Linked DNA regions of Homo sapiens: all the other regions are linked to region 1. Evidence: fine-mapped QTL for protein levels in blood plasma. A gene starts in region 1. Each other region holds a variant in brackets. All regions are shown on one strand. Distances are from middle to middle.

Region 1 (8,179 bases):
TGAAGGGTTGGGGTAGACATGGGGGATGAAGAGAAGTTGGTTATGGGTACAAATAGACAAGCACTTCAAGAGGCTGAGGCAGGAGAATCACTTGAGCCTAGAAGTTGAAGACTGGCCTGGGCAACAAAGCGAGACCCCCATCTCTACAAAAAATTTAAAAATTATCGGCAGGCAGATCACGAGGTCAGGAGTTCGAGACCAGCCTGACCAACATGGTGAAACCCCATCTCTACTAAAAATACAAAAATTAGTCAGGCGTGGTGGCGTGCACCTGTAATCCCAACTACACAGGAGGCTGAGGCAGGAGAATCGCTTGAACCTGAGAGGCGGAGGTTGCAGTGAGCCGATATCGCACCACTGCACTCCAGCCTGGGGAAGAAGCAAGACTTCATCTCAAAATAAATAAATAAATATAATAATAAAAATTATCCATGTGTAGTGGTACACACCTGTACTCCCAGCTACTCAGCAGGCTGAGGTGGGAGGATCACTTGAGTCTGGGAGGTCAAGGCTGCAGTGAGCCATGATGGTGCCATTGCACTCCTGCCTGGGTGACAGAGTGAAACCCTATCTGCCCCACTCCCAGGAAAAAAAAAAACCTACAGTTAGATAGAAGAAATAAGTTCTAATGTTTCATAGTAGACTAGGGTGACTATACTTAGCAATAATATTATGTATATTTCAGAGTAACTAAGACCGGGCATGGTGGCTCATGCCTGTAATCCCAGCACTTAGGGAGGCCGAGGCAGGTGGATCACAAGGTCAGGAGTTCAAGACCAGCCTGGCCAACATGGCAAAACCCTGTCTCTACTAAAAATACAAAAACTAGCCATGTGGCGTGTGCCTGTAATCCCAGCTACTTGGGAGGCTGAGGCAGGAAACTTGCTTGAACCCAGAGGGCAGAGGTTGCAGTGAGCCGAGTTCGTGCCACTGCACTCCAGCCCGGCAACAGAGCAAGACTCCACCTCAAAAAAAAAAAAAACACACACACACACACACATATATATAGAGAGAGAGACTCAAATAAAATGGATTAAAGTTAAAATAAATAAATAAATAACAAATATAACCAGAGCACAAGATCATAAGACATGCTTCAAACTGAGAAAGAAACCAAAACAAAACACACAGAGATAAGGAACTGAGAGGAAACAAAGCAACACAGGAAATAAAAGAAAAACCTGAAAGAACTGTAATTAACATCCTTAAAGACATAAAACATTGTGTGTGTAAAACAGGAACAGGAGGTGATTAAAAAAATGAGAATTAGAAAGAACTTTCAGAAATTAAAAACAGCAAAGCCGAATGTTTAAAAATTTACTAGCAATATTAAAAATGAAGTTAAAGAAAATATTTTTAAAAGTAAAGCAAAATAGGAGAAAAGAAAATGAGATGATTATTGGTTGAAGAAATCCAACACCCAAATAACAGACATTTCAGAAGGAAAAAGAAAAAAAAAACAGGTGAAGGAAATAAGCCAATAAGGAATACAAGAAATTGCCCCAGAACTGACAGTCTTTAGATTGAGTACCTTGCACAGCACAGTCAATCATTCTGTGGCCACACCAAGGTACAGCATCTTGGTATTTCAGAGCATTAGCATTAGAAAGGATTATCAAAACTTGCAGAGAGCAGCCAGTTCAGGGTGGCAACGAGCAGGGACTGAAGGAAGGAAATGTATTCAGCATCTCCTCACACAAGGCTCTATGCTGCTCCTTTACCTGGGTTATCTATTTGAATTACATTTAAGAAGGGGCAGTGGCTCATGCCTATAATCCCAGCACTTTGGGAGGCTGAGGTGGGCAGATCACTGGTGCCCAGGAGTTCGATACCAGCCTGGGCAACATAGCAAAACCAAAATACAAAAATTAGCCAGGCGTGGTGTATTGAACCTGTAGTCCCAGCTATTCATGAGGCTGAGGCATGAGAAGTTCTTGAACCTGGGAGGCGGAGGTTTCAGTGAGCCTAGATTGCACCACTGCACTCCAGCCTGGGTGACAGAGCAAGACTCTGTCTCAAAAATAAATACGTAAATAAAATTTTTAAAATGAAAATAAAACGATTGTTTCTCTACACTTGAAAGTATGATACAGCATACTGGAACATGTCAAGACTGTAAATTAGGAGACCTTAGGAACAGCCTCAAATTAGTATCATTCTAACTGTGCAACCTTGGGCAAATCACTAACGTCTCCAGATCTCAGTGTCCTCACCTACAAAAAAGGTAACTTGGACAAGATCAGTGGTTTTCCAAGTGCAGCATGAATATCATCAGTGGCATAAATACAATCTTAGGTGGCTCACAAATGGATAGGGGTTATGTTGACAGATAGGTAATTTTAAAACATGTATTAGCACATCAAACCCATGATATCGTAACTATTATTGTTTTTGTTGAAAAATTTTTAAGTTAAAGAAAAATATTAAGTAAATAGAGGTGCAAGGATATGACAAAAATGGAAAGTTTGCTACTCATTAAATCATTTTAATATCCAAGATTCTTCCCAGCTCAGTTATTCTGTAGTACATCAGATAGCAAAGAAAATTTTAAGAAGGAACTAGTATCAGCAATATGCAGTTATGGCAGAAGCTGTACCCCCAAAATCAGAGTGCTGGACGTCAGCAGAACCCCTTTAACTTCATTAAGTCCTTGACTCTCTTTTTTGACCACGGTGTTTGCCTGCTACTAAAATCTCTAGGGCAGGAGCACGGTGACTTCTATGTCACCATCCCACCTACCCCATGCCACATTCTCCATCAACAGCCCCGCCCCTTGTCCCTGTCTCCCTGGTGACACATAACAAAGGCCATCAAGCTCCCAAATCTTCAACTCCATCCTCTCCAAGAAGGACCCCAAAAGCATTTGTGTCCCAGCAACTGTGAACTTTTCCAGGCTGCCAGACAGAAGTTTATCTAATGGTGGTCAAGACCTGCCTGGTTGAATACTAGTAAAAACAATCCTTATTCACAATTTATTGCTATATCTACTTCATCTTCTCTCCTCCACAAGATTTTCCTTTTACTTTTAAAAGAGGATGCATGAAAACTTCATAAAGTAGTTTGCTTCCAGACTAAGAAGAAAGGAGGCTGGGTGTGGTGGCTCTGCCTGTGATCCCAGCCCTTTGGAAGGCCGAGGCAGGCAGATCACCTGACGTCAGTCGTTCAAGACCAGCCTGGCCAACACGGTGAAACCCCGTCTCTACTAAAAATACAAAAATTAGCCGGGCGTGGTGGTGGGTGCCTGTAATCACAGCTATTAGGGAGGCTGAGGCACAAGAATGGCTTGAACTCGAGAGGCAGAAGTTGCAGAGAGCCGAGATCGTGCCACCACACTCCAGCCTGGTGACAGTGGAGTAGGCCACATGCATCTGTGGTCCTGAGTAAATGCCCTTGGGCCCATTTTCAAAAGCCTGTTGGGAGAAAGCCTGTTACTCCTCCACTGAGAGTCTCAGACCCAGCTCAGATGGAGACAGGGAGAGGTGCAGGTGGATCAAGCCCAAGCTCCGGACTTCCCAGCTACCTCCTGAACCTCATCATCCCACAGCTCCCAAAGGACCCCAGTTACCTCGGAACAGCTCCAGAAACTGAGGGCTGTTTGCTCAGCGCCCCAGCATCTGTGCAGAGCACCGGAAAAGCTCACCAACTGTTTCACTTCCTGTTGGGGTAGGTTTTATTTCCCTCCAGTGTGCACCAGGGATCCAACTAGAGGCCGGGGAGAGGGGCTCTGCAGTGCTGAGGCAGCCAGAGTGGCAAGTGTGTGGCTTACATGCATGCTTGCTGTGTGCATCTGAGTTTGATGTGGGGGGCTTGTGCGCATGTTCATGTGGGTGTTTGTGTGTTCGTGTGTGTTTCGGTTTATGTGCATGTGGGGTTTGTTTTTTTTTTTTTTTTTTTTTTTTTGTAGACAGAGTTTCACTCTTGTTGCCCAAGCTGGAGTGCAATGGCGCAATCTCAGCTCACTGCAGCCTCCGCCTCCCGGGTTCAAGCAGTTCTCCTGCCTCAGCCTCCCGAGTAGCTGGGATTGCAGGCGTGCGCCACCATGCCCCACTGATTTTTTGTATTTTTAGTAGAAATGGGGTTTCACCATGTTGGTCAGGCTGCTCTCGAACTCCTGACCTCAGGTGATCCGCCCACCTCGGCCTCCCAAAGTGCTGGAATTACAGGCGTGAGCCACCATGCCCGGCCGCATGTGGGTTTATTTGTGTTGGAGGGAGGGTGTGTGTGTGTTTGTGTGTACTGTGTCTTTGAAAGGTCCACAGCATGTTGGTTTTGGAAACAAGCACCGCAAAGAGGCACTCCAAAATCTGTTCATGAACTCTGGGAAGTTCTCCTTCCTCAAAATGTGATTGTGGACTGTGGGGCAACCCATTAGACAGAGAGTAAAAAGTAGCTATAATAAAATATATGTTTTAGGGGGGAAATCAGGGATGCGGGGACAGGACAGTAGAGGGGGCAGGAGGTAGGAGACAAGAGCTGGGGTGTGAAGAGGACCAGCAAGAACAACGCTCCAAGGGACAAGTGGAGCAGACAAGGCTCCTGTACCCAGGACGGTCAGAGTCAGACCTCGCTTTGTAGCTGGCCTTAGCACTGTAGCAGTGGGGCCTCGACCAAGTTGTTTCAACTCTCTATACTTCAGTTTCCTCATCTGAAAATGTGGATAATAAAAGCACCCACCACAGAGGGTCCATTGTCAGAATTAAAGGAAAAACACATGCAAAGTACCTGCCACATAGAAAGCTCTTGATAAATATTAGCCATGACTATTCTTAGAAGTAACTATTGGGATGCCTCATCCAAGCCAATTAGAAATGCAGACATGGGAGGCTACACCAGGGACCTCCATGTCACATGCATGGTCTAAAGACTCGATTGCACCCCACTCCTCCCCAGTCCCACTCAAATCTACCCCCAAGACCCCAAATCTACCCCCAAAAGCCCACGGCAGTTTCAGTTCTGCAGCTCCCATACATCTGGAGCCTTGATGCTCCTTTTTGTCATTTTCTCCAAAAAGTACCAAGGTCATTCATTTAATAAACAGGAAGAAATCCCAAAGTGAAAACACAGAGGGGTCAGGGATTCCCTCATCAAGAGTTCAAGACTAGGCTGGGCTCAGTGGTGCATGCCTGTAATCCCAGCACTTTGGGAGGCCGAGGCAGGTGGATCACAATGGAAGGGGTTCGAGACCAGCCCCTACTAAAATACAAAAATTAGGTGTGGTGGTGCGCACCTGTAATCCCAGCTACTTGGGAGGCTGAGGCAGGAGAATTGCTTGAACCCTGGAGGTGGAGGTTGCAGTGAGCTGAGATTGCACCATTGCACTCCAGTCTGGATGACAGAGTGAGATTTTGTCTCAAAAAAAAAAAAAAGAGTTTAACACTAATTTTTTGAAAGTTAGAGGAAGCAGAATGCACCGCAAGTAATAAGGAGAAACAAGATTGATTCCAGCGCCGCACAAAGGGAAACCACCAATTCTGAAAGTAAATCATGTGAAGGGTTTTTTGTGGGTTTTTTTTATACTTTAAGTTCTAGGGTACATGTGCACAATGTGCAGGTTTGATACATAGGTATACCTGTGCCATGTTGGTTTGCTGCACCCATCAACACATCATTTACATTAGGTATTTCTCCTAATGCTATCCCTCCCCCAGCCCCGACCCCCCCGACAGGCCCTGGTGTGTGATGTTCCCCTTGAAGGGTTTTTTTAAAGACCAGGTCAAAGCTAAAGATCAAGCTTTTCTTTCCAAACGCTTTAGCTAAAAGTAGGAGCTAATTTTCACATCTCCGAAGGTGGCTCCAGGACTCCAAGTCACACCTTGGCAAGGGTGTGGCAGCTGGCAGAGGACTGCAGGTCCTTGTCAGGCAGAACCTGCCGGGTTCTGGGGAGTGGAGACTCAGATCTTGAGGTGGAAGCAGAGACAAGAGCTGGGCACACTTACCTGGATGTGGGGTTGGGAGCGGTGAATCAGAGCCCAGTTAGATCCTGGAGGCTGGCAGCAGGCTCTGCAGAGGTGCAGGGGCACCTCATTCAGAAGGGGCCATTTATTGGCCCTCTGTGGCTAAAACCAGCTCCAAGCAGGACTTTTTATGGCTGGAGTCGCCTCCAAAGGGGCGTCGGCCTCCACTCAGGTGTGACTCTGAGCGTTGCCTAGCTGAAAAGGCGTGATGATAGGGAGCACACGTGAGGCCATTCGGGAAGAATATTTTGCCAAGTGCAGAGGCCGTAAAAACGTGGAACATGGCTCTGTTTTTTATGCTCTATTGAAAATGATCATCAGAAGCAGAAACTGGGCTTGTGTTCAGAACCTGAAAATCTGCAGGGCAGAAAAACAGGACAAAGGCATCTTTTAGTGACTGCAAAACTAAACCTCAACAGAAAGATGCCTGAAGAGACAGGTGGATTATGACCTCAGAATTGGAGACAGGAGAGGTTTTCAGAATTAAAGATCATCTATGGCTACACAAACATTTGAGAGGTATTTTCATTAAAACATCCCTTTCTTCACACCAATATCATGAATTATATGCTATGCACAACCTATAACAGAGTATAGCAGAGTTACCAGTGGTTTAAAGTGCTGCATATATGATTGTTATATGAGGTAAATAAGATTCTCTGACCCAGAGTTAAGAAAATGGAAATAATAATTGCTAAGGCATATTAAGAATTATATATGTATGTGTGTGTGTATATATATATATATATATATATATATATATATATATATATATATATAACATTTAATCCCTACAGCAATACATACCTATAAATGAGTATATACAAATATGTGTGTGTATGTGTGTGTGTGTATATATACTCATTTAATCCTTGCAGCAATCTTATAAGGTAGGGACTATTGCAATCCCCACTTGAGAGAGGCGTACCCTGAAGCACCTGGCAGTAAGGTAACTTGCCCAAGGTCACACAGCTAGTAACAAGCATAGCACGGCCTTGCAGGCCCAGGTGGGTTCCACCACACCGCTTTCCCTGGCAGCAAGAAAATGGAAGGTTTTTGAAGTAGTGGGGGAGTCACCGGGCACAAGGAAGCAGATCCCTGGAGGAACACACAATTAGCAAAAGTGGAGCCCAGGAATAGACGTTACCAGGCATAAGTGATTTTTCCAGACACTGGGAACTTGTGTTTTGAAACACCAAAGTATTTTTAGGAAGCAGAAAAGTTAGCTCTTTCATTGAACTGCTATGTGGTTTTGAAGAAAATGTCCTAATATCCATAAAACTCAAAGCTTTAATCTGCAAGAAGGAAAAAATGTCATGTGCCTCCTACTAAGTTTTTTTTTTCTAAGTAAGTTTTTTGTGTGTGTGTATGTATGAAATAATATATGTGAAAATTTTTTTTTGAGACAGAGTCTCGCTGTGTCACCTAGGCTGGAGTGCAGTGGCACAATCTTGGCTGTCTGCAGCCTCTGCCTCCCAGTCTCAAGCAATTCTCTGCCTCAGCCTCCCGAGTATCCAGGATTACAGGCACCTGCCACCATGCCTGGCTAATTTTTTTTTTGTATTTTTAGTAGAGACGGGGTTTCACCATCTTGGCCAGGCTGGTCTTGAACTCCTGACCTCGTGATCCACCTGCCTCAGTCTTCCAAGTGCTGGCATTACAGGCGTGAGCCACTGTGCCTGGCTGAAAATATTTTTAAAACTATAAAGCAACTATACAATTACACAGCATAAATGATTTTCATTTTTCTTTTTTTTTGAGAAGGAGTTTCACTCTTATTGCCCAGGCTGGAGTGCAGTGGCATGATCTCGGCTCACCACCACCTCCGCCTCCCGGGTTCAAGTGATTCTCCTGCCTCAGCCTCCCGAGTACCTGGGATTACAGGCATGTGCCACCACGCCTGGCTAATTTTTGTTTGTTTGTTTGTTTTGTTTTGTTTTGTTTAGTAGAGACGGGGTTTCTCCATGTTGGTCAGGCTGGTCTCCAACTCCCAACCTTAGGTGATCTGCCCGCCTCGGCCTCCCAAAGTGCTGGGATTACAGGTGTAAGCCACCGTGCCCAGCCCAGCATAAGTAATTTTCCTTGCACAAATCTTTCTAGTATTTTTTCTGGCTTCTTAGGGTGCAGTGAACATAATTTGATCTTTTTTGAGGACTTGGTATCATTATTATGAGCATTTATCATAATACTTTCTATTGCTATTGCATTATCACTCTATTTCCAAT
Region 2 (8,179 bases), 31 kb before region 1:
GACAACCAAGTGGGGCAGAATCACCCACACAATGGGCATAGCACAGATTGCTTCTTACGTGAGATAACAAATGTCCTTATTGTAAAATCGGTGGGATGCATGTACTCTATTCTTGCAGCCATAAGCATTCTAATGGATTCACATATAAAATATGAACATCTGGCTGGGTGCGGTGGCTCACACCTGTAATCGCAGCACTTTGGGAGGCTGAGGCAGGAGGATTGCTTGAGCCCAGGAGTTCAAGGCCAGCCATGGGCAACATAGAGACACCCTGTCTCTACAAAAAATACAAAAATTAGCCAGGCATGGTGGCATGTGGCTGCAGTCCCAGCTACTTAGGAGGCTGAGGTGGAAGGATAACCTGAACCCAGGAGGTGGAGGCTGTAGTGAGCTGTGATCACGCCACCACACTCTAGCCTGGGTGACAGAGGTGGAGGCTGTAGTGAGCTGTCATCACACCACCGCACTCTAGCCTGGGTGACAGAGTGCCCATGTCAAAATATATATATATATATATATATATGAAAACTCCACTTTCCTGATAGAAATAAAACTCAAGAATTTCCATTGCTATGTAGCACATGTGTTTTGGTGGATTTTCACTGGTTTTTAAAGATTTCTTTTTCTTTTTAAAAATAAGGATATTGGCCGGGTGTGGTGGCTCACACCTGTAATCCCACCACTTTGGGAGGCCGAGGTGGGCGGATCACGAGGTTAGGAGTTCCGGACCAGCATGACCAACATGGTGAAACCCCGTCTCTACTAAAAATACAAAAAATATTAGCCGGGCGTGGTGGCAGGCGCCCGAGTAGTCCCAGCTACTCGGGAGGCTGAGGCAGGAGAATGGCGTGAACCTGGGAGGCGGAGCTTGCAGTGAGTTGAGATCGTGCCACTGCACTCCAGCCTGGGGACAGAGCGAGACTCCGTCTCAAAAAATAAAATAAAATAAAATAAAATAAAATAAAAAAATAAAAATAAGGACATTACTTTTAGGTATTAGATACCCAAGTCCTGGCAAAATCATCTCCAAGGACCATACATCTTGGAACCTGTTAGGTCCTGAGCTGCAATGTTTTGTAGGGCCAGAATTATTTCACACACATAAGTATGATTTTCCCCAACCAGACCACAAGCTCTTCAAGGTTAACAACACCCTCGCCCAACCCCCTCCCCCTCAAACAATTCTTCTGCTCTCCTAGAGCAGACTTTGATCTAAATTGGATCTAAATTGACTCGAAATGTCAGGAAAAAGAGATTAATGCACAAGGTCCCTTTCTCTGAGAGAAGGTGTGATAGAGCAGAGCTTAAGCCTGGGTGGGAAATGAAATTGCCCACCACTCTCTCCACCCCTCTTTGGTCTTCCGAGGGTGACAGGTGGGATGCTGAAGAGAGCTGCCCTCCTGGTCCCGGCCTCCATGTGAACAGCCTCCTCCCAAATCTTCCTTTGGATCTGAAATTGCAGCCGTGATCTTTCTTAGTTAGGGTTTACACATTTTAAGGACTGGAATACGGGAGGGGCTGAGATGACTGAGCGAGCCCAAGGATGGAGTTCTGGGAAAGAAAGATGTGGCTGGGCTGATGGCGTTTCAGGAGGAACAGCAGCCAGGGCCTGCATGGGGCAGGGCAGGGTTTCCTCTCCTACGATAATGCGGGACAGAACATCCTAAAGACAAGGAGCAGACCTGGTTCTCCTCCCTCTTCTGCCAATTTCCAGCTGTGTGGCTTTAGGCAGATCAGTTAACCTCTCAAGCACAATTCACTCGGAGGATGGAGAGCGTCAGAAAGTGTTCCAATTCATACACATTATATACAGGCATCAAAATATCACATGAGGCCGGGTAATCCCAGCACTTTGGGAGGCCAAGGCGGGTGGATTGTTTGAGGTTGGGAGTTCAAGACCAGCCTGGGCCAACATGGTGAAACCCTATCCCTATTAAAAATACAAAAATTAGCCGGGTGTGTTGGTGGGCGCCTGTAATCCCAGCTACTCGGGAGGCTGAGGCACGAGAATCACTTGAACCTGGCAGCCAGAGGTTGCAGTGAGCCGAGATCGCACCACTGCACTCCAGCCTGGGCGATACAGTAAGACTCTGTCTCAAAAGAATTTTTTTCCGTGGCTCAAGCCTGTAATCCCAGCATTTTGGGAGGCTGAGGTGGGTGGATCACTTGAGGTCAGGAGTTCAAGACCAGCCTAACCAACATGGTGAAACCCCATCTCTACTAAAAATACAAAAATTAGCTAGGCATGGTGGTGCATGCCCGTAATCCCAGCTTCTCCAGAGGCTGAGGCAGAAGAATCACTTGAACCCGGGAGGCAGAGGTTGCAGTGAGCCAAGATCGCACCACTGCACTCCAGCCTGGGTGACAGAGTGAGACTCCATCTCAAAAAACAAAAAAATTGACCAGGTGCAGTGGCTCACACCTGTAATCCCAGCACTTTGGGAGGCCTAGACGGGTGGATCACAAGGTCAGGCGATCGAGACCATCCTGGCTAACACAGTGAAACCTCGTCTCTACTAAAAATACAAAAAATTAGCCGGGCGTGGTGGCGGGCACCTGTAGTCCCAGCTACTTGGGAGGCTGAGGCAGGAGAATGGCATGAACCCAGGAAGCCGAGCTTGCAAGTGAGCCGAGATCATACCACTGCACTCCAGCCTGGGCCACAGAGCGAGACTCCATCTCAAAAAAAAAAAAAAAAAATTTGTTTTCCTTTTTGTGTAGAATGGAATCTTACTATGTTGCCCAGACTGGTCTCAAACTCCTGGGCTCAAGTGATCCTCCTGCCTCTGCCTCCCTAAGTGCTAGAATTACAGATGTGAGCCACTGTACCTGGCTAAAACACTTTTTTTTTTGAGACAGGGTCTAGCTCTGTCACCCAGGCTGGAGTTCAGTGAGCCTGGGCTCAGGCAATCCTCCCACCTCAGCCTCTAAGTAGGTGGGACCACAGGTGTGTACCATCATGCCTGGCTAATTTTTGTATTTTTTTGTAGAGACAAAGTTTTGCCATGTTGCCCTGGCTGGCCTCAAACTCCTGGGTTTAAAGAGATCCACCCACATCAGCCTCCAAAGTGCTAGGATTACAGGCATGAGCCACTGTGCCTGTGCCCAGCCTAAAACGAATTTTTATAGCCAAAGTAGGATGATGTGAGTTTGCAGGATTATGCCCCTACCACGAAAAATTAAAAAAAAAAAAAAAAAGAAGAAGAAGAAGGATTCAAATTCAGACTCCACTGCGCACCAGCTCTTTAACCCTGGACCACTGTGTTTGGAGCCTTGGGCTCTTCATCTATCAAATGGAGATTAAAAACTGGGGAAACAATCAGAAATCAATTAGAAAAGGCCAGGCGCAGTGGCTCACCCTTGTAATTCCAGCACTTTGGGAGGCCGAGGAGGGCAGATCATGAGGTCAGGAGATCAAGACCATCCTGGCTAACACGGTGAAACCCCGTCTCTACTAAAAATACAAAAAATTAGCCAGGCGTGGTGGCAGGTGCCTGTAGTACCAGCTACTTGGAAGGCTGAGGCAGGAGACTCTCTTGAACCTGGGAAGCCGAGGTTGCAGTGAGCTGGGCGACAGAGGGAGACTCCGTAAAAAAAAGAAAAAAAAAGAAGAAGAAGAAAAGAAAACAGGAAGGAAAGAAGAAAGAGAAACTAGAAATAATACATGTAAAGTGGCTGATTCTATTATCCTTGTTATTCCTTCTCCATGGGGCTGTTGTCAGGATTAAGTGAGATAGAGCACAGGAAAGGGCTCTGGAAACGCCTGTAGGCTCTAACCCTGAGGCATGGGCCTGTGGCCAGGAGCTCTCCCATTGACCACCTCCGCTGCCTCTGCTCGCATCCCGCAGGCTCACCTGTTTCTCCGGCGTGGAAGAAGTAAGGCAGCTTAACGCCATCCTTGGCGGGGATCATCAGAGCTTCCTTGTAGTCA[T/C]GCAAGGAGTGGCCAGTGTCCTCATGCCCCACCTGCAGGACAGAGAGGGACAGGGAGGTGTCTGCAGGGCGCATGCCTCACTTGCTGATGGCGCGCCCTGGAGCCTGTGCACACCCTTCCTTGTACCCTGCCACCACTGCCGGGACCTTTGTCACACAGCCTTTTAAGAATGACCAGGAGCAGGCCAGGCGTGGTGGCTCACACCTGTAATCCCAGCACTTTGGGAGGCCGAGGCAGGCAGATCACGAAGTCAGGAGATCGAGACCATCCTGGCTAACACAGTGAAACCCCATCTCTACTAAAAATACAAAAAATTATCCAGGTGTGGTAGCGGGTGCCTGTAGTCCCAGCTACTTGGGAGGCTGAGGCAGGAGAATGGCATGAACCCAGGAGGCAGAACTTGCAGTGAGCTGAGATCACACCAATGCACTACAGCCTGGCCAAGAGCAAAAAATATATATATATATATATTTTGTAAAGACGGGGTCTCACCGATTTGCTCAGGCTGGTCTAGAACTCCTGGACTCAGGTGACCCTCCCACCTTGGCCCCCCAAGGTGCTGGGATTACAGGAGTGAGCCACTGCCCTGGACTAATCTAGATTCTTTTTTTTTTTTTTTTTTGAGATGGAGTCTTGCTCTGTCGCCCAGGCTGGAGTGCAATGGTGCAATCTCAGCTCACTGCAACCTCTGCCTCCTGAGTTCAAGTGATTCTGCCTCAGCCTCCCAAGTAGCTGGGATTACAGGTGCAGGCCACCAAGGCTGGCTAATTTTTGTGTTTTTAGTAGAGATGCGGTTTCTCCATGTTGGCCAGGCTGGTCTTGAACTTCAGACCTCAGGTGATCCACCTGTCTCGCCCTCCCAAAGTGCTGAGGGCATGAGCCACTGCACCCGGCCTAGATTCTTTATGAGATTGCCGAGCTGTCACCTAAGAAATGTCCTGGTTGTGCTTCGATTTGGTGGGGAGGTGTGGGACAATGACAACACCTATGAATGTGTAGCTTCAAAAACTGGTGTGGCCAGGCATGATGGCTGGAGAGGGAGGGACAAATATCACTACCTTGAGGATTTGCAAAGGCCTGGCTCCATCCTGGACTCTGTTTCCAGACATTACCCCCCAGTCCCCACCCCGCGTGCTACAGGGGCTGGTGAGGGTTTTAAGACCCACACCTAGGTGAGCAGTGTGGGATAGAAAAAAGGGCACAGGCAGGGCCATGGGGAATGAGCCCATAACTGTGGTCCAAACTCCCTGAATGCCATCCTTATTCTGGAACTTTCCTTGTTAGCTTGTTAGAACTGGCTGTCTGCTCTCCCTTCTCCAGTGACAGCCGTCCCCTGTAGGCCTCTGAAGAGGGTCAGCGCTGAGCTCTGAGCAGCCCTGCTGTGTCAGCAGCCTGAGCCTGCCCTGGGATGTCAGGGTACCAACAGGCACATTGCGCTCCCTTCCCAGGGAGTTGCCGCTCCACCCAGACAGGCATCCTCGCATGCCCCCTTAACAGGCAGCCCTTCTGTTCACAGCATGGGTTACCAGGTCAAACCCTGCCACCACCGTGGGGAACTTGATTCGGAGCCCCATGGCCATTCGGATGGATTCTGCGATGACAGCCACATCTTTGGATCTGTGAGACAGACAGAGAAGCCAGGAGACAGTGCCCAGCACCGACAGAGCACAAACCCCAGAGCACACCCTCCGTGCAGGGCTGGGCCAGCCCCAAGTGTGCAGGTCCCGTTTCCCAAACCTGAGGCACCCCTGCCCTCCTGACCCCACCCTGACCAGGCCATTGTGATCCCTGAGAGATATGTAGCCCAAATCCATTCTTATCAAAGACCCTTGCTGGCTCTGGGGGCACCTGTAGTCTCTGAAAAGTAGATGGGGTCAGAGGACCCACGGGAACAGTTTTATTTGTCTGCGTTTAGAGGAGGCCAGGTGGCCTTGTTCCCAGCTCTCCCTGCATCTCTGTCGGGGGTGTAGACATGGATGCAGCTCAGGGGCAGCTCTCTGTCCACTGCACACCTGCAAAGGGCCACAGGTCACCCAAGTCCCTGATGGGTCGGCTGGACCCAGTAACCATATGGCCTCTTGCTGATTAAGTCAGCAAGATCCTGGGTACTGCAGAACCCTACAGGGGCAAGGCAGGCAGCATGACAACAAAAGCCCCAAAACACAGGGTCTGGCGCAAGCCCACGACAGGCTCAAGGTCTTTGCCCTGCCACTGGCTCTCCTGCTCCAATCCTCGGCTCTGTGGGGATAAAGCCTTCCTGGCCTGCCCCACCCATGGCCTCTCCCCAGAGCCTAGGCAAACCTGGGGGCACTGATGCACTCAGCTCAGCCCTCACACCCTCCTGCCACTGGCCCTGGGAAGGGGCACCTGGCACCAGGGAGCCTCTGAGCAGAACGTGGGCCCATCCTGCAAGCTCCCTCCTAGGGGGACCGGCACAAAGCCAGAGCTTAGCTCCTCCAGGCCCCAGGCCCCATGGAAGGGAAGGGGACTCAGGAAGACTGGGCATGGGAGGAGGCTCCTGGGGAGTCAGTGCCCTCCAGAGCCCAGGCTCGTGGGTGAGCTGAGCAGAGGGAGCCGCTGCCGGATCCCTTCGGTGCCCGCCCCGTGCCTGACTCCGAGGGACCCCACTGGCTGCTGCCCTTGCAGCTGCGACCATGGACAGGTCCCAGCCTTAGACTGGCTGCTCTTTAAAGTGAGGGGAGGGGTCTTGTCTGGTAAAGTCAGAAGGACAATTAAGCTGCAAAGCTTTCTGTGCTTCCCTGGGAAAAAGAGTGGGTCTTTCACCCACGTGCCAGGCCACGCACATGGTACTACTGGAGGTCCCCACACGCAGACTTGAGCCAGTGCCACTCAGGGTGTCTCCGTGATCAAGGACTCACACACAACCACACACAGAACCCAGAGGCAAATTGAAACCAAAAACGGGCCAATTATCCAAACATTCAGGCAAAACCATTATGCTCATAAATGAGTCACCAGGCCAATGTGGGGTCACAGCCGAGAATTATCTGGGAAATTCACACATTCTTCATTTCAGTTTGGGGGTGAAGACCTGAACTAGAAGTGGCTTCAGGCAGCAATTCATTGTTGGGTCACCGCACTTACCTAGGACTGTGCTCTCACACAGGCACAGCACAGCTCCTTGGCACCAGTGCTGGGCCTCTCCCGGCCTCCCAGCCCCGCTTCTCACCCCTCCCCTCCCAGCCTAGTAGCTCTGCCTGCATCCCAGCCTCCCAACCCGAGCTTTTCAGCAATATTCTCTCTCACCTGTGATCCGAATAAATGATTTTGATTCCAATAAACTCAGGGTGAGTTTCCACAAACTTCTGAGCTACTTCCTGGTAAGTCTTCACTGACCACTCTTCGTCATGGTGCTCTCCACTGAGCTCATACACCTGGGAAGAAAGCACAACCAGGAGCCGTCAGGTGAGCAGTGAGAGACGCCACCCCCTTCCCAGCCACCCCTGCCCAGCCACCCCTGGCCAGCCACCCCTGCCCAACCACCCCCTTCCCAGCCACCCCTTCCCAGCCACCCTTGCCCAGCCACCCCTGCCCAGCCACCCTTGCCCAGCCACCTCCTTCCCAGTCAACTCCTTCCCAGCCATCAACGAGCTCTGGGAAAAGTAGATGGGGTCAGGGGACCCACAAAACAGTTTTATTTGTGTTTGGATTAGGCCAAGTGGCCTTGTTCCCAAAAGTCCAGCCAGGCTGGACTTGTGCTTCCCTTGTTCAGGTCCTCTACGGCCTTGGGCATTGTCTCTGCTGCTGCATGGGGAATTCCTAGCTGGCTCTGGGATAACCCTGATGCTGATGCCCACCTGTCTCCTTCATTGCTGGGTCACTGCACTTAAAACAGCACATGGCACACGCGAGGGTAGGTGCCCATTAAGCATCTGCATAATGGTTGAAGAGCAGGTCACGGGGGGAGAGGATGAAAGCTAGAAAGAGTGATCTGAGAATGACGTCATTCCCCACTACCTGCTCACCTCCCCACTGCTTCCCTAACTCCAGGTGCAGCAGCTGCAAGGCGGCCACTGCCACCAGGGACAGCAAGGGGGACACAGTGAGAGCAGAGTGGGGAGAGTTGGGAGTGGGCAGGTGACAAGGAAGCTAAGGGAAGGGAGGTGTGTAATGGGGAAAGGTGGCTCACACCTGTAATCATAGCACTTTGGGAGGCCGAGGCAGGGGGATCACTTGAGGTCAGGAGTTCAAGACCAGCCTGGCCAACATGGTGAAACCCCCATCTCT
Region 3 (8,179 bases), 26 kb after region 1:
CTTGGCTTGGTATGAAGGGAGCACAAGAAGGAGTAAATCCAGGACACGGCTAGACTGTGGCACCCCTGTGGGAGTGCCCGCACTTAGGGACACATGACCTTGGGGGAATTCTGGACAGCTTAGAGGCTTACTCCATGACAGAAGATACTTCCCTTCTGGAGACCTCAACTTCTCTCTGTGTTAGTTGGCTGAGGCTGCCATCACACAATATCACAATCTTGGTGACTCAAAAAACAGAAACTTATTTCCTCACAGTTCCCTGGGCTGGAAGTCCAAGATCAAAGTGTTGACAAGCTTGGTTTCTTCTGAGGCCTCAGTGTGCCAACAAGGACCCTTGCTGTCTCTTCCCACTCCGAATTTCCTGTTCCTATAAGGACGCCAGTCAGATTAGATTAGGCCCACCCTAAGGGCCTCCTTTTAATTTAATCACCTCTTTAAAGGTCCTATCTCCAAGTACAGTCACCTTTTGAGGTACTGAGCATTAAGGCTTCAACACACGAGTTTTGGGCCAGGAGTGGTGGCTCACAACTATAACCCCAACACATTGGGAGGCTGAGATGGGAGGATCCCTTGAGCCCAGGAGGTCGAGGCTCAGTGAGCTATGATCGTGTCACTGCACTCCAGCCTGGGCAACAGAGCAAGACTCTGTCTCAAAACAAAACAAAACAAAACAAAACAAACCCATGAATTTTGGGGGAGACACCACTCAGCCAGCAACACTGTAAGTATGGAATACTAATACCAACCTATTTCACTAGTTGAGGGAAGTGATTTCAGAAGAGGGGGCTGAGATTTGTCATAATCAGCAGACCAAGTTTAGATGTAAGTACCTCCTGCAAAATTTCAGAAAGATCTGTCTTGTCCTTTGTCAACAGAAAAAATCACTCCTTCATGCAAGCATTTATTGAGTGCCTCTCTGTGCCAAGTTGGCTCACTGCAATGCAGATATTATCTGATCTAATCAAGGGGTATTTATTGAGTGGCGTTGGAGGTTAAAGGAGTATCAAACAAACTTGATCCCAGTCCTGAAGGAGCTTGTAATTCTTGCTGGAAAGGCAAGACCAACTCATAGGAAACAACAGGAACAGCAGCAGGTGATATACAACTGAGTTCTAAATTGTGTGGTGCAGACTTCAATTGCTGCTGGAATTGGGAATGAGGAAGATCAATGAGGGAGCGGGTCAGCACCAGCTAAATCACTTAGACTGAGGCATTCATCAGCCTGAGCCATTGTTCACGCTGCAGACTTTCTGTTCAAAATGGTAAAAGCCAGTCCGAGGCTGGGCACGGTGGCTCACGCCTGTAATCCCAACATTTTGGGAGGCCGAGGCGGGCGGATCACATGAGGTTGGGAGTTCGAGACCAGCCTGACCAACATGGAGAAACCCTGTCTCTACTAAAAATACAAAATTAGCCGGGCGTGGTGACGCGTGCCTGTAATCCCAGCTACTCAGGAAGGCTGAGGAAGGAAAATCTCTTGAACCCAGGAGGCAGAGGTTGCAATGAGCTGAGATCACGCCATTGCACTCTAGCATGGTCAACAAGAGCTAAACTCCGTCTCAAAAAAAAAAAAAAAAAAAAGCCAGTCCAAAAGCCTCAGTCACAGGGATGACTCAGGACCTTGAGTTTCATTTCATGTTTCTAATGTCATGAGACAACCGTGGGCCTCGCCCTGCTCAGCAGAGTCCTACCCCCCACTTTCTCCACACAGCTTCCCCTACTCAGGGTACATGAAAAAGGGGTTCCCCACCACAACTCTATGGCCACACCCCAGGGGGCAAGTTCAACCAACAGGCCAGGCGAATGAGCCCCATCTGTGCCCCATTCCCACCTGATCGGACCCCACAGCCCTTTGGGAGCACTCAGATACTGGTGAGAATGCCCCTGTTTGCTTGGGGGGCCCGTGGCTACTTATTGACGGCACAGGGCATCTGTTGAGAAGATGCAGGCAGGGGAGGGAAGGAGAGAAAGACAAGAGGAGCCTATGCAATTGGCGAGAGACACAGAGGACAGAGAACATGGGGAACTGAGGACTAGAACGGATTTCTGGCCTGACCCGTTCTGGGGGACTCCTTTTAGACCAGGGGTCTGTGTTGGCCCGTGAGTGCAGCTGGGCTCTCTCCACCTCTTTTCAGCCTCCTCTGCCACTCTGAAAGGCCCCAGGTTTTATTCCCGGTTCACATTGCCGCACCCATAACCCAGGGAATGTGGCAGCCCCTGCTGGGGTTTCACAGGCGTGCAGAGGGTGCCTCTGGGTAGGGCTTCATTCCTCTATGGGCAGGAGTCCCTGGGCACTGACCACGCCCTAGTGACAGCCAGAGTGCCTTCATTCCAAGTGCTATATTAGCAGTATCTTAAAAACCTGTCTGAGCCGGGCGCGGTGGCTCACACCTGTAATCCCAGCACTTTGGGAGGCTGAGGTGGGCGGATCACGAGGTCAGGAGATCGAGACCATCCTGGCTAACACGGTGAAACCCCATCTCTACTAAAAGTGCAAAAAATTAGCTGGGCGTGGTGGCAGGCGCCTGTAGTCCCAGCTACTTGGGAGGCTGAGGCAGGAGAATGGCGTGAACCCGGGAGGCGGAGCTTGCAGTGAGCCGAGATCGCGCCACTTCACTCCAGCCTGGGCAACAGAGCAAGACTCCGTCTCAACAAAAAAAAAAACCTGTCTGAAACAAGTACGTGAGAATTCACTTCTTCTTCTTTTTTTTTTTTTTGAGATGGAGTTTCGCTCTTGTTGCCCAGGCTGGAGTGCAATGGCACGATCTCAGCTCAACACAACCTCTGACACCCAGGTTCAAGTGATTCTCCTGCCTCAGCCTCCTGACTAGCTGGGATTATAGGTATGCATCACCATGCTGGGCTAATTTTGTACTTTTAGTAGAGACGGGGTTTCTCCATGTTAGTCAGGCTGTTCTTGAACTCCCACCTTCAGATGATCCACCCGCCTTGGCCTCCCAAAGTGCTGGGATTACAGGCGTGGCTACCTCGCCCAGCCGAGAATTCACTTTTGCTGAGAAAGTAATGGAGGTCCCACGGCCATTTTAGGAGCAACATTTGTTGGGGTGGAGTGGAGATCGGTAGTGCAAAATTGACCCTCCTAGATTACCCAAGAAAAATGAGCCCAAATCTGAACTTCTGAAGACACAACTTGAATTCACCACCTTTTTAAAATCTTTTTTTTTTTTGAGACAGAGTCTAGCTCTGTCGCCCAGACTGGAGTGCAGTGGCGCGACCTCGGCTCACTGCAAGCTCCACCTCATTTAGTTCAGGTACTAAACGGGTCACTGGGCTTAGTGGCAAGAGTTCCTAATGAGAAATACTACTTGAGGACTTACATTGTGCCAGATGCTTTACATGTGTGGCATCATTTAATCTTCCAGATATTATAACCATTGTCATTGTAGAGATGAGAAAACTGAGTCCTGAAAAGCTGACTAGTCTGGGGACATCACTTGTTCAAGGTCACATGGCTAGTCGTTGAGGAAAGCAGAATTGAACTCAGGTGACTCCATGGCCCATGTATGAACCACTGGGCCACACTCCCTCACTTA[T/G]AAGCTGATGTTGTCAGTTCTCACTATCAGCAGGGTTGGTGCCTCTACAAAACCACAATCAGGAAGGGAGAAAGGCCTTAGGAATAATATTCTAGGCCTTCGACTACAAACTACAGCCTGCAGGACAAATTTTTTTCAACTTTATTGAGGCATTTTTTTTTTTTTTTGAGATGGAGTCTCGCTCTGTCGCCCAGGCTGGAGTGCAGTGGCGCGATCTTGGCTCACTGCAACCTCCGCCTCCCAGGTTCAAGCAATTCTCCTGCCTCAGCCTCCCGAGTAGCTGGGACTACAGGCACGCACCACCACACCCGGCTAATTTTTGTATTTTTAGTAGAGATGGGGTTTCACCATTTTGGTCAGGCTGGTCTCGAACTCCTGACCTTGTGATCCGCCTGCCTCGGCCTCCCAAAGTGCTGGGATTATAGGCATGAGCCACCGCGCCTGGCTGAGGCATATTTTATATATATAATTCATCCCTTTCAAGTGTACAATTCAATAATTTTAGTCAATTTACCAAACTGCACAGCCATTACCTTAATACATTTTAGAACATTACCAGTAAGACCATACTTTCAGGGATATCACTTCTAGAGTTTATTATAGAACACTGTCAGTATCCCAAAAGGATCCCTCATGCACACCTACCTGGAGGTCAAAATAGAACCTTCAGATGTTGTGCTTGGTCCACCATATTTAGAATATTCTTTTGATGGCTGGGAGGAGTGGCTCAAATCTGTAATCCCAGCACTTTGGGAGGCCGAAGCAGGCGGATCACATGAGGTCGGGAGTTCGAGACCAGCCTGACCAACGTGGTGAAACCCCATCTCTACTAAAAATACAAAAATTAGCCAGGTGTGGTGGCACATGTCTGTAATCCCAGCTACTCTGGAGGCTGAGGCAGGAGAATCACTTGAACCCGGGAGGCTGAGATTACAGTGAGCCGAGATCACGCCACTGCACTCCAGCCTGGGTGACACAGCAAAACCCCGTCTCAAAATAAAATAAAATATTATTTTGAATTTTTTGCTAGCTTTAAAAAAAGGAGACAACATCACATAGTATTAAAATTTTTAAATTCTCCTAGAAAAAAAAATCAGAATATTGGGCAAAAGGGGACTCTTCTTCATACAAGGCAAAACCAGTAGCTGCCCCCTTTAGACAGAGCTGGTGCTCTCGGGTCCACTCCATAAAATCAGTAAGAGGGTGCAAGTGGGGTCCCCAGAACCATGGCCTTCTAGCCTCCAGCCCAGACCCTTGGTTCCACAGCTCTTGGCAGATGGCAGAGCAGTCACGGCACTTTGTTATTAGAAAAAGCAAGTGCTGCCGGGTGCCGTGGCTCACGCCTGTAATCCCACCACTTTGGGAGGCCGAGGCGGGTGGATCACAAGGTCAGGAGATCAAGACCATCTTGGCTAACACGGTGAAACCCCGTCTCTACTAAAAATACAGAAAAATTAGCCGGGAGTGGTGGCAGGTGCCTGTAGTCCCAGCTACTTGGGAGGCTAAGGAAGAAGAATGGCGTGAACCCTGGAGGCGGAGCTTATAGTGAGCCGAGATGGCGCCACTGCACTCCGGCCTGGGTGACAGAGCTAGACTCTGTCTCAAAAAAAAAAAAAAAGAAAAAGAAAAGAAAAAAAAGAAAAAGAAAAAGCAAAAGCAAGTGCTAGGCCAGGCACAGTGGCTCACGCCTATAATCCTAGCACATTGGGAGGCTGAGGCGGGCGGATCATCTGAAGTCAGAAGTTCGAGACCAGCCTGACCAATATGGTGAAACCCCGTCTCCACTAAAAATACAAAAGTTAGCCAGGCATGGCGGCGTGCACCTGTAGTCCCAGCTACTCAGGAGGCTGAGACAGGAGAATTGCTTGAACCCGGGCGGCAGAGGTTGCGGTGAGCCGAGATCCCGCCATTGCACTCCAGCATGGACGACAGAGGGAGACTCCGTCTAAAAAAAAAAAAGCAAGTGCTTCATCCTCACCAAAAAGGAGCTATTCTTTTTACTTGGGCAACCTTCTCTGAAAGCAAAGTCACCTGTCTTGTAATGAAGCTTCGCAATTAGGGTTTACACACGATGTGGCAAAGGAACGCTCACAGTTTGCTGTCTCTTTGGCATCAACTTCTCCCTGCACATAAAGCGGGCATTTCTCGAGCCTGGCTTTTTGGCTTTCCTTTGCTAGGCTCCATGTAGACACACTGCCCTTTGGGGAGCTGTTGACAGGGTTGATTAGAGAATGACTATCTTCGGTTACTATGGGAGACACTGCTGGTTGTCCACCCAGTTCCTCCTTTGTTCCTTACTATTTTGTTCACAGTGGCAATATTTTCAGGGAAGGTGAACCCAGCCCTAAGGAGTGAACTATGATTGGATAGCTCACTCTGCGGATTCCAGGTTTCCTTGTGATTGGATAGAACGCTGCGGATTCCAGGCTTCGTTGTGATTGGATAGAACTTAGCGGATTCCAGGCTTCCTTGTGATTGGCTAGAACTCTGCGGATTCCAGGCTTCCTTGTGATTGGATAGCTCACTCTGTGGATTCCAGGCTTCCTTGACAGTAACTGGCTTAGGAGTAGGCATATGACCCATTCTACTCAAAGAGGCATAAGCGGACACTGACGTTTGCTGGCAGGGGATGAGGAGCTTGGAAAAGATCCTCCTCCCGTTTTGCCATCTTTGTTTCTTGCCACAATAGGATGTAACCATTGGCGCTGCAGCAGCCACCCTGCGACCATGAATGGAGAGCCAAGAGAATGGCAGAGGGTAAAACACAGCTTTCCCATTGTTTTGTTTTCTTTTGTTTTGTTTTGTTTTTTGTTTTGTGACAGTCTCAAACCGTGAGACGAATAAAACCTCTTTTTTTTTTTTTTTTTTTTTTTTTTTTGAGATGGGGTCTCGCTCTGTCACCCAGGCTGGAGTGCAGTGGCATGGTCTCGGCTCACTGCAAGCTCTGCCTCCCGGGTTCACGCCATTCTCCTGCCTCAGCCTCCCGGGTAGCTGGGACTACAGGCGCCCGCCACCACGCCCGGCTAATTTTTGTATTTTTAGTAGAGACGAGGTTTCACCATGTTAGGCAGGATGGTCTCGATCTCTTGACCTCGTGATCTGCCCACCCCGGCCTCCCAAAGTGCTGGGATTACAGGCGTGAGCCACCGCGCCCAGCCAGAACCTCTTTTCTTTATAAATTACCCAGGTATTCCACTATAGCAGTGCAAACACATTGCTCGCCACTAACACAACCCTGTGCCTTTCTTTTTCCTTTTGAGACGGAGTCTTGCTCTGTCACCCAGGCTGGAGTGCAGTGGCACAATCTCGGCTCACTGCAACTTCTGCCTCCCGAGTTCAAGTAATTCTCATGCCTCAGCCTCCCAAGTAGCCGGGACTACAGTTGTGTGCCACCAGGACTGGCTAATTTTTGTATTTTTAGTAGAGACAGGGTTTCACCATGTTGCTCAGGCTGGTCTTGAACTCCTGACCTCAAGTGATCCGCCTGCCTCGGCCTCCCAAAGGGCTGGGATTACAAGTGTAAACCACCACACCCAGCCAAGCCTGTGCCATTTTAAAGGTAGGGAAACCAAGGCTCAGGATCTTAAGTGACTTGTCCAAGATCAAAAAGCCGAAAAATTGGCTGGATGTGGTAGCTCACCCCTATAATCCAGTACTTTGGGAGTCTGAGGTGGGAGGATCACTTGAGACCAGGAGTTCCAGACCAGCCTGGACAACATAAGGAGACTTCATCTCCATAAAAATTTTTTAAAAATTAAGCTGAACATGATGGCAAATCCCTGCAGTCCCAGCTACTAAGGAGGCTGAGGCAGGAGGATGGCTTGAGCCCAGCAGTTTGAGGCTGCAGTGATTCATGATTGCATAACTGCACTCCAGCCTGGGAAAAAGAGCAAGACCCTGTTTCTAAATAGATAAATACTGAATAAATAAAATGAAATGTTTTAAAAGCTGAAAAATTAGGCTGGGCACAGTGGCTCACGCCTGTAATCCCAGCACTTTGGGAGGCCAAGGCAAGTGGATCACTTGAGGCTAGGAGTTCAAGACCAGCCTGGCCAACATGGTGAAATCCCATCTCTACTAAAAATACAAAAATTAGCCAGGCATGGTGGCGTGTGCCTGTAGTCTCAGCTACTTGGGAGGTTGAGGCAGGAGAATCGCTTGAACCCGGGAGGTAGAGGTTGCAGTGAGCCGAGATGGCACCACTGCACTCCAGCCTGGGGGACAGTGTGAGACTCCGTCTCAAAAAATATTGAGACTCTGTCTCAATAAAAAATAAAAATATTGGCCGGGTGGCTCACGCTTGTAATCCCAGCACTTTGGGAGGCTGAGGCAAGTGGATCACCTAAGGTCAGGAGTTCAAGACCAGCCTGGCCAATATGGTGAAATCCCATCTCTATTAAAAATACAAAAATTAGCCGGGCATGGTGGTGCGTGCCTGTAGTCTCAGCTACTTGGGAGGCTGAGGCAGGAGAATCACTTGAACCTGGAAGGTAGAGGTTGCAGTGAGCCGAGATGGCACCACTGCACTCCAGCCTGGGCAACAGTGCGACACTCCGTCTCAAAAAATAAAATAAAATAAAATAAAATAAAATAAAATAAAATAAAATAAAATAAAGCTGAGGCCA

What was found. PIP is the chance, under the fine-mapping model, that this variant and not a neighbour inherited with it causes the effect. Protein levels are from antibody-based Olink assays in UK Biobank. Linkage for the fine-mapping came from a reference panel and not from the study's own genotypes, which makes the PIPs less certain.
Region 2: its variant is fine-mapped to the plasma level of the ADA2 protein (UK Biobank, PIP above 0.99). The variant lies in the coding sequence of ADA2. If it changes the protein, the assay may bind it differently, which can mimic a change of level.
Region 3: its variant is fine-mapped to the plasma level of the ADA2 protein (UK Biobank, PIP above 0.99).

What each region holds. Positions count from the first base shown.
Region 1 is chr22:17,215,791-17,223,969 of GRCh38, forward strand. ADA2 (adenosine deaminase 2) reads right to left here and starts at 3,645. Exons shown (of 10, transcript NM_001282225.2): 1 at 3,566-3,645. RefSeq lists enhancers at 3,022-3,382, 3,223-3,292, 3,303-3,432.
Region 2 is chr22:17,184,485-17,192,663 of GRCh38, forward strand. ADA2 (adenosine deaminase 2) reads right to left here. Exons shown (of 10, transcript NM_001282225.2): 5 at 7,199-7,326; 6 at 5,458-5,548; 7 at 3,855-3,963. Among named protein-coding and RNA genes, the nearest start is that of HDHD5-AS1, 29 kb to the left of the region's middle. RefSeq lists enhancers at 3,461-3,962, 3,963-4,462, 5,351-5,851. The variant T/C (reference allele first, on the strand shown) is at 3,932.
Region 3 is chr22:17,242,025-17,250,203 of GRCh38, forward strand. No RefSeq gene overlaps it. Among named protein-coding and RNA genes, the nearest start is that of CECR3, 21 kb to the right of the region's middle. RefSeq lists enhancers at 1,465-1,524, 1,545-1,804. The variant T/G (reference allele first, on the strand shown) is at 3,555.